Linked DNA regions of Homo sapiens. The protein of the gene in region 1 purifies or fractionates together with the protein of each later gene. This does not show direct contact. Each region holds a gene or a part of one and is shown in the gene's direction. Other genes may lie near its edges.

Region 1 (2,818 bases):
CTGACATTTTCACCTAGGATACCATTAAATATTTTACGTTGTTTTAACCTCCAAAACTAATATTTCAAAATTTGAAGTCCAAGTAAAATGAAGCATTTAGGAATTGCTCTCTGCTCCTTTATTCAACAAATGTTTACTTGCAGATTATCAAGTAGGTTTTAGATTTGAGAGCAAAATTGTGTATATGTGTGTGTATGTATGTATGTATGTATGTATGTATGTATGTATGTATGTATATGTATTTCTAACACCAGTGCAGCATAACTAATTTAATGCCAGTGCTGTGAACTATATACTGAATAGCTCTGTGTGGGCTTTGTAGTCTACAGGGATATCACATTATTAGCAATCATATCTGCTTAGGCAAAGCTGGCTTCTACAGATGGCTGCTTTCAAGTGCAAATGAACTGGTTAGACGTGTCTTGTTTAATACATACTCAAGATTCACAAATGGGTATTGATTTTTTTTTTCAACCAGTGTTTCTGATAGCAGTGGAAATGGATTAAATGGTCTCTAGAGAATTTAAAGGAACACTGTCACTTTTAATTAATAGTAAACTTGAGTGGTAACAAAGTATATAAAGTTACATTAATATGTCATGTCAATATGTACTTGATTTATATTGTCTATATAGTTTTATAACAGTGGGCTATAGATTCTAGAAATAAGTAGCTTATGGCCTTCAATACATTGCATGTCTTTATAAAAACATGTGAAAATATGTATTTTTATATATATACACACACACATATGTGTCATATATATGAAATATATATAAATATAAATATATATGTATACACACACACACATATGCCTTTAATTGTAGGGTACGTTACGTTGGCTTTCTAGAAATAAGCTTTATATATTCTTCATATATTTATATTCTGTTAAAATCAGGACAGTTTTATATGTGGTCTAGATAATTGAAAATATGCTTACTAGGGCTCTGCAATCTGGTTTGTTGATTTTACCCTCAGATGTATGATCTTTATTAGTGTTTTTGTTACAGATTAGTATAATTTCACTTGGCTTTGAACATTCTTATCAATATCTTCAAAGAGAAGCACTAATCCTGTTGGGCAAAGGTTTCTTCTCAATACATTCTAACAGAAGGGAAAAACTTTTGAGAATTTCCCCCAAAAGATCCTCAAGTCCTTATTGTTGAGGAGTCGATGGTGGGGTCATGTGGGACCATGTCAGCTGTGTGCAGTGTTAAGTGTGGGTGCTGCAGAGCCTGTTTTACTTATGGTAAAGTAAAGTTCATGCCATGGACTAAACCTGGTTTTCTGGAACTGCTGCTTGCTTCTATTAAAATTACCAGCAGATTGCATGTCTGGATCTGCATACCAGCAGGTGGAATCAGTTGCTTTGCTGACTAATTTACAAGTGGAAGAAATATCTGTCTTTGCAACTGCAACCTGTTAGAGTCTCCTTGTAACTAGGGCCATTAGTCAGGAAACCGTATGATGAATTCTAGTACATACTTCTATGTATACACATTGTCAAGACTAAATTTTAAAAACTACAAGGAAGTAGTTCAGAATCTTACACAACAACTGATCATAATTTTCCTTATACCAACTATATTTTTGGCATCACCAGTGTCACCAAAGGATTTCTTTAAGCAAATAAAGCAGCTTTTAACTAGTTATATAGTCTTTTTCTTTCTGCCTGGTTTGATCTGTTTTGTTACAGTGACTTGCTGGATGTTTGCAGACACATCAGAAATGTACCATAAACAGCGTGTAATGAAACTTAATGATATTGGTATAATTACATTTATGTACCAACAATTTAGTGGAGAATACATTATGATTATGTATATATGGAAAATCTAGTTCTGCCCAAATCAAGAATACTTTGCTTCTCTCCAAGTCTAGTTTTGAACTTGTATGCCTTCCTATATTTCATTTTTTCTTTTTTTATATCACCCAAGTAGTATAATACTTTTTATATCTGCTGCCACCATTTACCCCATGTATTTAGTTGTAAACTAATAACCCATTTCCTCTATATTTTCTGTTTGCAGGCTGCTGGAAAGTACAGACAACAAGGCAGAAATTATATTGTTGAAGATGGAGATATTATCTTCTTCAAATTTAACACACCTCAACAACCGAAGAAGAAATAAAATTTAGTTATTGCTCAGATAAACATACAACTTCCAAAAGGCATCTGATTTTTAAAAAATTAAAATTTCTGAAAACCAATGCGACAAATAAAGTTGGGGAGATGGGAATCTTTGACAAACAAATTATTTTTATTTGTTTTAAAATTAAAATACTGTGTACCCCCCCCCCCCCATGAAATGCAGGTTCACTAAATGTGAACAGCTTTGCTTTTCACGTGATTAAGACCCTACTCCAAATTGTAGAAGCTTTTCAGGAACCATATTACTCTCATGATACTTCATTAATCTCCATCATGTATGCCAAGCCTGACACATTTGACAGTGAGGACAATGTGGCTTGCTCCTTTTTGAATCTACAGATAATGCATGTTTTACAGTACTCCAGATGTCTACACTCAATAAAACATTTGACAAAACCAGCCTTGGTGTGTTTGGGGATGTCTGTATTGACTGACTGTGGTGTGCTGAATGCGATACGGCACCTGGTGGTTGCTGATTACAGAATTTTAAGGCGTGTGTATGACACAGTAACTGGCAGTGTGGGGCAGCTGCAATTGTATCTTAAAAGTGAGTCTTTCATGGGAATCAGAAGAATAGTATACCAGGGATTTGTCTCAAAAAAGTTAATTAATTTATAGATCAACATTTATTGAAAGATGATAGCAATGATATTATGAGGGATATGA
Region 2 (3,525 bases), on another chromosome or scaffold:
CATGACCACTGTGCACACACAGCAGGTTTCATGAGAAGCTGGAGCACTGGCTCATGGTTGTTAGGAGGCACCAGCTGACCTGTTTCCTGTATAGGCTCAACCTCCTCAGAAGTGGACACCCATTACTTCTCGCTGTTTCTGTGTGATCTCCATTTCACATTTCTAAAGGGTGGATCTTTTGGGGTCACTCGCTATTTTCTAATACAGAATGCTCCCGTCAAGCTCCCTTATTGATAACTGATATCTCTTATGTCCTGCCAGCAGTGCACGATTGGCTTTGAGACTGCCTGATCCACTCACTCGTAACCAGCCAAGTACTATGACCCAAACTATAGCAGAATTTGGCACAAACAGGTCCCTGGTAGCTACTTTCCTCAGGAAGGCCTATGGATTTGGAAAACACAGGTGTCTCATAAGGACATACTCATAAATTGTTTTCATGTACAATAATTCTTGTGTGTACTTTCCTCCTGTTGTCATCAAAGTGGTCACATATTAAAACTTTTCTGCTAAATATGAATCCTCATGTTTAATGGCAGAGAACCCACCATTCCCAGCACACTTACTTCTGTCTCTGGACTAATCTTGAGTAATTGGTTTTCCTTTGCTTAGGTCTTATTGAAGTTAAAACAGATGAGTTTCCTCGCCATGGGAGCAACATAGAAGCCATGTCCAAGCTAAAGCCTTACTTTCTTACTGATGGAACGGGAACAGTCACCCCAGCCAATGCTTCAGGTTAGATTTTCTGAAGGACATCTGGGGGAATACTATGTTCTATAATGTCTACCGAGTGAATATTTTTCTCTTTATTTATATACAAAAGTACTATTTTTTGGGACAGGGACTCACTCTGCCAGCCAGGTTCGTGTGCAGCAATATGATCATTGCTCACTTGCAGCCTCAAACTCCTGGGCTCAAGTGAGCCCCCTGCCTTAACCTCCCAAGTAGCTGGGGGACTACAGGCATGAGCCACCACACCCAACTCAATATTTATGTACAAAATTATTCTTAAAACAGTTTAAGGAAACATGTCATTTCTCTGTATTTGATCATTGACTTAACCTATACTGAAAGAATTAATTTGGTTTCTTGACATCCCAACTAGACATACAAATGAAGAAGTAAATTAGGGAACTTCAGTTTATCTACCTTTGTATTTTTCCAGTACCAGAAACTCCCAATACCTCCTTGTGAAGCCCAGGCTTATTCTTCCATTTCCTGTCAGAGATCTCCCCTCCCCAACTGCTGTAATCCTTTTTTTTTCTTTTTGAGACGGAGCCTCACTCTGTCGCCCAGGCTGGAGTGCAGTGGTGCAATCTTGGCTCACTGCAATCTCCGCCTCCCAGGTTCAAGCAATTCTCCTGTCTCAGCCTCCTGAGTGGCTGGGACTACAGGCGCACACCACCACACCGGCTGATTTTTCTATTTTAAGTAGAGATGGCTTTCACCCTATTGGTCAGGCTGGTCTCAAACTCCTGACCTCAGGTGATTCACCCTCCTCCACCTCCCAAAGTGCTGGGATTACAGGCGTGAGCCACCACGCCCAGCCCCGACTACTGTAATCCTACCACTTTCTCTAGTTGGAAAGTTTTGTGGTCAATATATTGCCAAACATAATTTCTATGTAAAGTCTGTTGAATTATAGTAAATGCCTTAGCCAACAGGTAAAATCATTTAACTCATGTCTTCAGGTGGTAAAGAAGCCACAGATATGTAACTGAGGTTAATAAGCATGGTAGAAATTAAGTCACTCATATTTTACAGGAATAAATGATGGTGCTGCAGCTGTCGTTCTTATGAAGAAGTCAGAAGCTGATAAACGTGGGCTTACACCTTTAGCACGGATAGTTTCCTGGTCCCAAGTGGGTGTGGAGCCTTCCATTATGGGAATAGGACCAATTCCAGCCATAAAGCAAGCTGTGAGTATAACCCTATTCCCTTTTATGAAATTTGTCTTCCTGTTAGCCTTAAGTGAGCTTATTCATGTAGTTAGCTCTAGTCTTTCCCTACCAGAAGAGTAACCAAGAGCATTTATTTCTATTTTTGAGATAAGGTCTTGCTCTGTTGTCCAGGCTGGAGTGCAGTGGCACCATCATAGCTCACTGCAGCCTCAAAACTCCTAGGCTCAAATATTCCTCCTGCCTTAGCCTCCCATTACCTCGAACTACAGGTGCACCACGCCTTCTTCATTTCGTAGAGACAAGGTCTATGTCGCCCAGGCTGGTTTTGAACTCCTGAGTTCAATTGATCCTCTTGCCTTAGGCTCCCCAAGTGTTGAGATTTCAGGTGTGAGCCACTACCCCCAGCCACTGAGAGCATTTGGATCACATGCTTTCTAGGGGAACTGATTCTGTTACATTAGCCTTAGGTACACATAACAGATGCTACTGGTTCAAAATTTTAAGACAATTTAGAATTTCTAAGGGATCTTTTAGATCACACCCTTAACCTTTTGGATGGAATGGATGTCACTAAGGCAAAAATGTGTGAGAATGTCACTGTATTAACCTAAGAACAAACCAAAGTAGCAGTTACCAGTATCATGCAGCATATATTTATGTTGACAAAGAATGGTTTAACTTTAGCCTTTCCACCCAAGTTTAGACCTCTTTTCTATGAATCTTTCCTCTAGGTTACAAAAGCAGGTTGGTCACTGGAAGATGTTGACATATTTGAAATCAATGAAGCCTTTGCAGCTGTCTCTGCTGCAATAGTTAAAGAACTTGGATTAAACCCAGAGAAGGTAAAGATGCACAAGTAACCCTGAGAGCTTACCAGTGAATTTCACAATCCAATTTTAAGATAGTATCTTCTAGGTGTTGGCCATGTGGGTAATAGTTAAAGAAATACTAGTTACTAGGACTGAGTTCATTACTTCCCAAGGTTTAAAAAAAAAAAAAAAAAAAAAAAAAGACATTGGCTTACTTGGCATAAAAGGAACGAGGTAAGATAGGCAGGGATGAATTTTCACAAAGGTGTAAATTTATTCCTAAGCAGTTAAAATGAAAATTTGAGTTTGAAAGGGTAGCATGCTGATACATTAAGAGGAAAAAGACAAGTTTAAGATTTTAAACTGTGTCCACAGAAGAATAAACAATCTAAATCTTTTCTCCCCCGTTAGGTCAATATTGAAGGAGGGGCTATAGCCTTGGGCCACCCTCTTGGAGCATCTGGCTGTCGAATTCTTGTGACCCTGTTACACACACTGGAGAGAATGGGCAGAAGTCGTGGTGTTGCAGCCCTGTGCATTGGGGGTGGGATGGGAATAGCAATGTGTGTTCAGAGAGAATGAATTGCTTAAACTTTGAACAACCTCAATTTCTTTTTAAACTAATAAAGTACTAGGTTGCAATATGTGAAATCAGAGGACCAAAGTACAGATGGAAACCATTTCCTACATCACAAAAACCCAAGTTTACAGCTTGTACTTTACTTTAATGTGTAATACTCAACTCAAGGTACAAGACAATTGCATTTAACATTGTTATAAATAAAAGGAACATCAGATCAATCATTAAGGGCTCC
Region 3 (3,958 bases), on another chromosome or scaffold:
GCCAACTGGTGGCTAGGCCCGGAAGAAAACCCAGCTCTTCCGACTCCGGAGCTCGTCTCCCCACCCCGGGGCTGCCGCCAGAGCTCCCGCCCCTCACTAAGGCGGCATAAGGAGGAAAAGGCAAAGTAGAAATCCCACAACCAACCATCCTCCGGCCCCCTCCTGCCCCCCCAACTGGGTCCTTGCAGGCCCCGAAGGGTGGCGCCAGGCCTCCAAGCCGGCCCCGGCCACCCCCGCCTCCCCGGCCGCTCCAAATCCCGCGGCCGCTGCCGCCGCCGCCTCCCCCGGAGCGGGGCGGAGCAGCTGCCCGCCGCCGCCGACCACCCGGACGACTCCTCGTCGAATCGCAAACGCATAGGCCGCCGCCCGAGTTCTGCGTACGAGAAGAAAGACGCGGCGCGAGCGCCAACGGCCACCGGGCGCGCGCCGCGGCGGCCGGGCCTGCGCCCCAAGAGCTGGATGCCAGAGCAGGAGAAAGAGCCGCCAACCGATCGCTCGATCGACCGCACGCCCGTTCCTTCGCCCTACCAGACCCGGGAGGGGGGGAGGGCGCGCCAGGGCTTCTTCGATTTAGGGGCCTGACTCCCCGGCGACGAGACAAGATGGCTCCTCCGGTCCGCACCGCAGCTACCGTCCCGGCTGCGTCGCTCGGCCCGCCCCCGGTACTGTTTCTTTAAATGGCGGAGAGGGTCAGGAAAGCAGGAAGAGAGGCGCACGCTGTCACGTGACAGGGGCGGGACCGGCCAACCAAGATCCGGTCACATGGGGACACGCAGCCCGCCAATCAGGAGGCTGTACATCAGGGCGGGGGCGGGAGGAGCTGCAGCTTTGTGATTGGCTGAATGCTCCGCGGAGGCCTCGGGGGCTTGGGGCGTCGGGGAGTGTGCGAGGTGGCCGGGGCTGTGTGCACTATCGGAGACAAAGCGGTGGCTGTGGTGTCTGTGACGGCGGCGGCAGAGCAGCTCTAAACGCCGAATTTCGTGTTGCTGAATCCTGTCACCATCTCAACTAGCGCGGCGCGCGGGCGGCGCGCGGGCGGCGGCGGAGGCAGCGGCGGCGGCGGCGGAGGCGGCAGCAGCACATGGTTCCAAGAGCGCTCTGCGGCTGTTGGGTTCCAATTCCGCGGGGAGGGACAAAGGCAGTTGTGAGATCCGGGTAGTGCCCGGTCAGGTGGTGCGCTCGCCACTGCCCTCGATCCGGTCCTTGGAAGCCGGGAGTAGCTCCTCTTCGTGGGGAGGCGGCCACGGGACCGAGGCCCGGGAAGGGCCTGGGAGGCTGAGGCTGTTGTCTGAGGGACGTGGGGGCGGGGCGCGGCCTGCCCGAGGTGCTGTGGGCGGGTCATTTGTGAGGTGTTTATGTGGGCCAAGTGTGAGGTAATCTGACCACCACCCTGAACTGGGTTTGGTCCGGCTTTGAAAAAAGAAATCGTGAGTGCCTAGGAGCTTTTTCACTTGGGAGGTGGTGAAGCTGCAACTTGCGCCATATAACACTCCGTCGACATCTTGGTCTCCGGTCTTGGGCCTGTTTAAGAATCCTGGCATCACGTGTGGCGAAGACATGGCTGATCAGTTTTCTGACAGAAGTGGGTAAATTTCCGCGTTGGTAAATTTCCTGACAGGAAATTTCGGGGAACCAAAAAAGGCTGGAAGAACATGAAGATGGAGCAGTCATAAACCACCCACTCAAGGACCATCTCCTTCAGGACCATCCACACGAGACTCAGATTGTCTGAATTGAGCTATCGCAACTTAATGCTAAAAGCTCCTTAAAGCTACAGATTTATGACATAGTTCCTTCCAAAATATTACATCATAAATCATTGAGAAGATTAAAAAAAAACACTTGAAGAAATTGTAGTTTTAAACATCTCTGCATATATTTTGGATAGCTACTAGGTTACTTTAACTGTCATTAAGGAGCACAGACTTACTGAAGCTTTACTGGACAGAATCCTGGGAAATCGATATCATTATAAGGTTATATTTCCCAGTTAGCGGGTGAAGGGCTGGAGACCTTATTGCAGTCATGGCTTTCACAAATTACAGCAGTCTGAATCGAGCTCAGCTAACCTTTGAATATCTGCACACAAATTCGTAAGTATCCTCTAGGTGCCACTGAGGTAACCAGTAACTCGTTCCTTGATATTATATGGAAATCGTTTCCCCAGAAAATTTTGCTTTTTCACTTTTTGAGATGTATCCCACTGGAGTGAAATGTGTCACTGGATATCTTGAGCTCTGTATTGAAGAACTGAGATCAGTGAAATACTTGTTGCTAATCCAGAAGAATCTGATTTTTGTTTATTGGATCAAAATTTTCTAAATGCAAACTTTAGTTATTTGAAGTCAATATGTTGAGTTGTTTCATTCAAGTGTTTATAGGAATCCAACAAATACTGCTCTATTGGATCGCCAAATGTTGGACTATTTTAGTATCAACCGTTTCCCCTCTGTAGTGACAACGTCCTAAACAGTTAGGTTTATAACAAGTGTTTACTTTCTAACAAGAAAACAGAAGACATTTAAATGACAACTTTCAAGAAGAAAATTTTTATTTTTTCAGAAGTTGGCATTATCTTCCTGGCAGATTGCTCACATCCAATATTATTTGTATATGCTAAACAGGAAACGGCAACTTGTTTATATCTCTATTTAGATAGTCTTTCCCCAAAATTTCCACAGAAACATACAGTGTTCATGGTTCTTGAGTTCATGAAGGAGTAATCTAATCACTCCAACATGGTCTGGAATGTTTCAGGTTTAATCCATATGCCCACTCTCTTGGAGGCTGTCCAGTAGCGTCAAAACTTTAGTGTTTTAATACATTCACCTGTTACTTTTGAGATGAAGGTAAGTGTTCTAACATTCTAGTACCTGGAGAGGAGATGAGCAGCTACATGAATGGTCCAGTCTCTGAAGAACCCACTTCAGAGTCGAGAGTATAGACTTCCATTATGTAGTAATAGTACAATGGTTTTTAGCTTTTGATGGAGAAGACAACATGTTTGTGATATCATAATGTCTGTAATATTTCTATTTTTCCTTTAAAGGGAATAAAATTTTGCCAAGTAGTGAAGCAAACTGTCAAATGGTGAAAGCCTGTTTTTATTTTTTTTAGGAAGTTTGTTATTTTTTTGAGAGACGGAGTCTTGCTCTGTTGCTCAGGCTAGAGTGGGGTGGCGCAATCTTGGCTCACTGCAACCTTCACCTCCCAGGTTCAAACGATTCTCCTGCCTCAGCTTCCCAAGTAGCTGGGACTACAGGCATGCACCACCACGCCCAGCTAATTTTTGTATTTTTTTAGAGAGACGGGGTTTCACTATATGTTGGCCAGGCTGGTCCCGAACTCCTGACTTCAGGTGATCCACCCACCTTGGCCTCCCAAAGTGCTGGGATTACAGGCATGAGCCACCATGGCCGGCCTGTAGCAGTCACCTAGGTTGAATTCTAACACTTAAGTATGATGACCCTGAAACACACTTGGGTGAGGTTGCTGATTAGTGATTATTCAGCTAGTTGATAGCATAGCCTTGGGAAAAAACTTTAGTGTCCTTTTTAATGTTTGAACTGCCATATTAAGAACAAGCAGTTGAAGGCCACTTAAATGTTCATGGATGACTGTGTTTGATAAATGGTTATCTCAGCTCTGAATTTTGGAATGATGGTAAGTCTGGAATTACAGATTTTATGATAATCTTGGAAGACCATGAACTGGACTTCAGAATTTCAGTTCTTGTTCCAGCTTCACCAAAGACTTTATGGGATAATAATAGTAACAACAGTTAATTGCTTCATATCAGTCACTATTTTAAACATTGTCCAAAGCAATCTTTACAGGAAGCCTTTGGGATAAGGATTATTCCTATTTTGCATTTGAGGAAACTGAGGTTCAAAGAGATTAAATTACATGGTAATGGCTATATAGCTGCCAAGTGGCAGACTTAAACGGTGCCAAGATT
Region 4 (3,525 bases), on another chromosome or scaffold:
AAGACCCTCTCAGCCCGCTTCAGCTGCAGTATAACTTTTCTACACATGCCCGGATTTCCCCATGCAAGCACGCCCACAAAGGGTAATAGAATGGCACATGTTCAAGCTGGATACGCCATTGGCAGGATCCCCACAGATGGGACTTATGTGCATTATCCATTGTGTATTTTTGCTTATTTTCTGCTCTGTGGTGTTAAGATACTGAAAATGTCAAAAAGACCTGTAGATATTTCTATGAGCAGCAGTGATAAGGAAAAGTAGAAACACTTATAACACAGAAAGTCAAGCTGTAGGAGAAACTGGACTGTAGTATAAAGGTATAGATGACATGGTGAAAATGTGTGATAGAGATATTGAAGGACTAGAGCTACCTGCATTCATAACAGAACAAGAGGTCATGTCAGTTTATAAAATCAAAGAGAGCCTTCCAAGACAAAAGCCATTGTTAATGAAGCAGATGACTCTGGAGAAACATTTAAAAGTCATCTGGCCGAATGCCTCTTCAATCTCAGAGGACCCGCTTCCTAGTTGCTCAGCTGCTTCTGATGTTTCTTCTCACCTGAAAAAGGAAAAAAAAATACAGTGTATAGTAACCTTTTAATCAAAACGCAGCATTGTAGGTGGAGTCTGAAAGCCTGCCATTGTTTGTACAGCTGTTTAACAGCTGATGCAGGTATTCTGGTGATTCTACTATGCTACTTATTACTTTCTTACTGTATTAATGGTATGTCATATTTTATAAGCATATGAAAATGATTGCTCATCAGCAGCATAATAAATTCAGAGTCAGGAATGATGGTCAATGATGTCAAACAGCCACAGATTTTCCACATGGTAGCTGAGATAGTGACCCCTTTGCTTTCTGATGGTTCCATGTATGCAAACTTTGTTTCATGCACAAAATTATTTGAAATATTATATAAAATTACCTTTAGGTTTTGTGTATAAGATATATGAAACATAAATGAAGTTCATGTTTAGACTTGGGTCTCATGCCCAAGATATCTCACATATATGCAAATATTCCAAAGTCCAAAACACAAAACACTTCTGGTTCCAAACATTTCAGATAAGGGATACTCAATCTGTATATATATAAATATATGTATGTATTACATATATGGTATGTATATAATATACATTTCCATCCCTCCACAGGTTACTGTTCTGGCACATTCCCATTATGTTCTGTTTATCAGACTGCAACTAAAATTTTCATGGGTTCGGCTTTATGTTGAACAGAATTTGCAGAATATGAGTTGAAGCGAACCATAGTTTAATAATGCTGTGATTCTCCTAAATCACCAAAGTGCATGAAAGGATTATAGAGCTCAGAAATACTGAAGCATCTTTGCAATAAAAAATTATTAGTGAATGTACAAGGAGTCTAACATTTTGGTTTTGCTTTCGCTTCCTAAGATGCAACAGCATTTTGAATTTGAATACCAGACCAAAGTGGATGGTGAGATAATCCTTCATCTTTATGACAAAGGAGGAATTGAGCAAACAATTTGTATGTTGGATGGTGTGTTTGCATTTGTTTTACTGGATACTGCCAATAAGAAAGTGTTCCTGGGTAGAGATACATATGGAGTCAGACCTTTGTTTAAAGCAATGACAGAAGATGGATTTTTGGCTGTATGTTCAGAAGCTAAAGGTAATAATAAATTTTTCTATAGATTTTCATTATTGTCTTGGTTGTACGTTTTCTTTTAAATTATATTTGAAAATCTCTTAGAGAGCAATCCAGAATTTTACAAGTGACTAAGTTATGAGTCTTTACCTTTTTTTAAAAAAACAGAGGAGTTGTACTCTCCTTTTCAGCACTTAAATTCTGTAATCCTTGAAGGATGATTCTTTAGTGCAGTCGTTTATTTTTTGCTGTGCTAATATGCTCTACATCTAGCTTGATCTTAAGTGCAGTTTTAAGTTTTCCTGTGTCATACTATAATCGTAGGGTTGACTCTGCAATTATTGCATTGTGGTACTTTGCGCAGTTATAGCACAGCAAGTGTTAGGATTTCTAAAACAGCTTTATTGATAATTCACATACCATGTAATTCACCCACTTGAAGTATACAGTTCAGTGGTTTTTAGTATATTCACAGATGTTGGTAAACAACACTCCAATCAGTTTTAGGATTGTTTTTCCACCTCAAAAAAAACCAAATCAAATCCTATGCCCTTTACCTTAGTTTTTGCTGGCAGGATCAACTAGGTTTTTGTTTGTTTGTTTGTTTGAAGAGATGGGGTCTTGCTCAGTCGCCCAGCCCAGGCTGGAGTGCGGTGGTTTGATAGCTCAGTGCAGCCTTGAACTCGTGGGCTCAAGCGATTCTCCCACCTCAGCCTCCCTAGTAGCTAGGAGTATAGGCATGCACCACAACACCCTGCCTCCTGTGCCCTTTAGCTTTGAATTCCATCTCTCCATATCCATCAGCTGCACCCCTGCAGTTGTAGCCCCGGCAATCACCAGTCTTTCTGCCTCTGGATTCCCTATTCTGTATGTTTCATATGAACGGGATTATATATCATACCGGCTTTTGTGACTGGATTCTTTCACTTGGTATAGTGCTTTCAAGATTTGTCTATGCCGTAGCATGTATCAGTACTTACTTCTTATGGCCAAATGATATTCCATTACATGGATACACTGCATTTTGTTTATTCGCTTGTCAGTTGATGGACATTTAGGACATTATTTACCCCTTTTGGCTATTATGAATAATGCTGCTATAAACATTGGTGTACAAGTTTTTGTGTGGACATTTCCCTTGGGTGTATATCTAGGAGTAGAATTGCTGGGACACATGATAACTATGTTCAGTTGAAGAACTGCCAGACTAATTTTTGAAATGGCTGCATCATTTTTTATTCACTCCAGCAGTGTATTAAAATTTCTGTTTCTCCACATCTTCACAAACAGTGTGTGACTTTAATTCTAGCCATTCTAGTGTATGTGAAGTGGTATCTCATTGTGATTTTGATTTGTATTTTCCTGTTGACAGTGATGTCCAGCATCTTATCTTATGCTTATTGGCCATTTGTATATCTTCTTTGGAGAAATATTTGTTCAGATCCTTTGCCATTTTTTTTTCCTGTTAGGGATCATTTTATTTTAAAAACATAATAGACTTTATTTTTTTTTTTGAGCAGTTTTAGAAAAAATTGAGAGGAAAGTGCAGAGAGTTCACATATGCTCCCCCTACAGTGCCCCTGCCCAGTTTTCCCCACTCTTAACATCTTGCATTACTGTGCTACATTTATTAGATTTGATGAACTGATACTTATATATTAACTGAAGTTCATAGTTTACATAAGGGTTCACTCTTTGTGTTTTATAGATTTTTGGATTTGACAAATGTTTAATGCCATGTACCCACCATTACAGTATTATGTAGAACAGTTTCATTGCCCTAAAAATCTCCTGTGCTCCACTTATTCTTTCCTCCCGTCCTCTTCCTCCTAACCCCCCAGTCATTACTGATCTTTTTGCTTTCTCTCTCACTTTGCCTTTCCCAGAATGTC

What was found. Proteins that work in one complex are often made in the same cells at the same time.
Region 2: the proteins of OLA1 (region 1) and ACAT2 fractionate together in Homo sapiens (co-fractionation; one large-scale study listed by BioGRID). This does not show direct contact.
Region 3: the proteins of OLA1 (region 1) and MORC2 fractionate together in Homo sapiens (co-fractionation; one large-scale study listed by BioGRID). This does not show direct contact.
Region 4: the proteins of OLA1 (region 1) and ASNS fractionate together in Homo sapiens (co-fractionation; one large-scale study listed by BioGRID). This does not show direct contact.

Annotation. Positions count from the first base shown.
Region 1 is NC_000002.12:174,074,740-174,077,557, reverse strand, and holds part of OLA1 (obg-like ATPase 1), read left to right. Parts: intron 1-2,030; coding exon 2,031-2,132; 3' UTR 2,133-2,818. UniProt on the Homo sapiens protein: Hydrolyzes ATP, and can also hydrolyze GTP with lower efficiency. Has lower affinity for GTP.
Region 2 is NC_000006.12:159,775,538-159,779,062, forward strand, and holds part of ACAT2 (acetyl-CoA acetyltransferase, cytosolic), read left to right. Parts: intron 1-612; coding exon 613-735; intron 736-1,764; coding exon 1,765-1,919; intron 1,920-2,632; coding exon 2,633-2,743; intron 2,744-2,960; exon of another isoform or gene 2,961-3,121; coding exon 3,122-3,292; 3' UTR 3,293-3,507; coding exon of another isoform or gene 3,508-3,525. Other genes in the region: TCP1 (T-complex protein 1 subunit alpha), read right to left, coding at 3,508-3,525. UniProt on the Homo sapiens protein: Involved in the biosynthetic pathway of cholesterol.
Region 3 is NC_000022.11:30,965,957-30,969,914, reverse strand, and holds the start of MORC2 (ATPase MORC2), read left to right. Parts: upstream 1-1,140; 5' UTR 1,141-2,025; coding exon 2,026-2,093; exon of another isoform or gene 2,094-2,849; intron 2,850-3,958. Other genes in the region: TUG1 (taurine up-regulated 1), read right to left, coding at 97-558. UniProt on the Homo sapiens protein: Essential for epigenetic silencing by the HUSH (human silencing hub) complex. Recruited by HUSH to target site in heterochromatin, the ATPase activity and homodimerization are critical for HUSH-mediated silencing.
Region 4 is NC_000007.14:97,862,391-97,865,915, reverse strand, and holds part of ASNS (asparagine synthetase [glutamine-hydrolyzing]), read left to right. Parts: intron 1-1,419; coding exon 1,420-1,657; intron 1,658-3,525.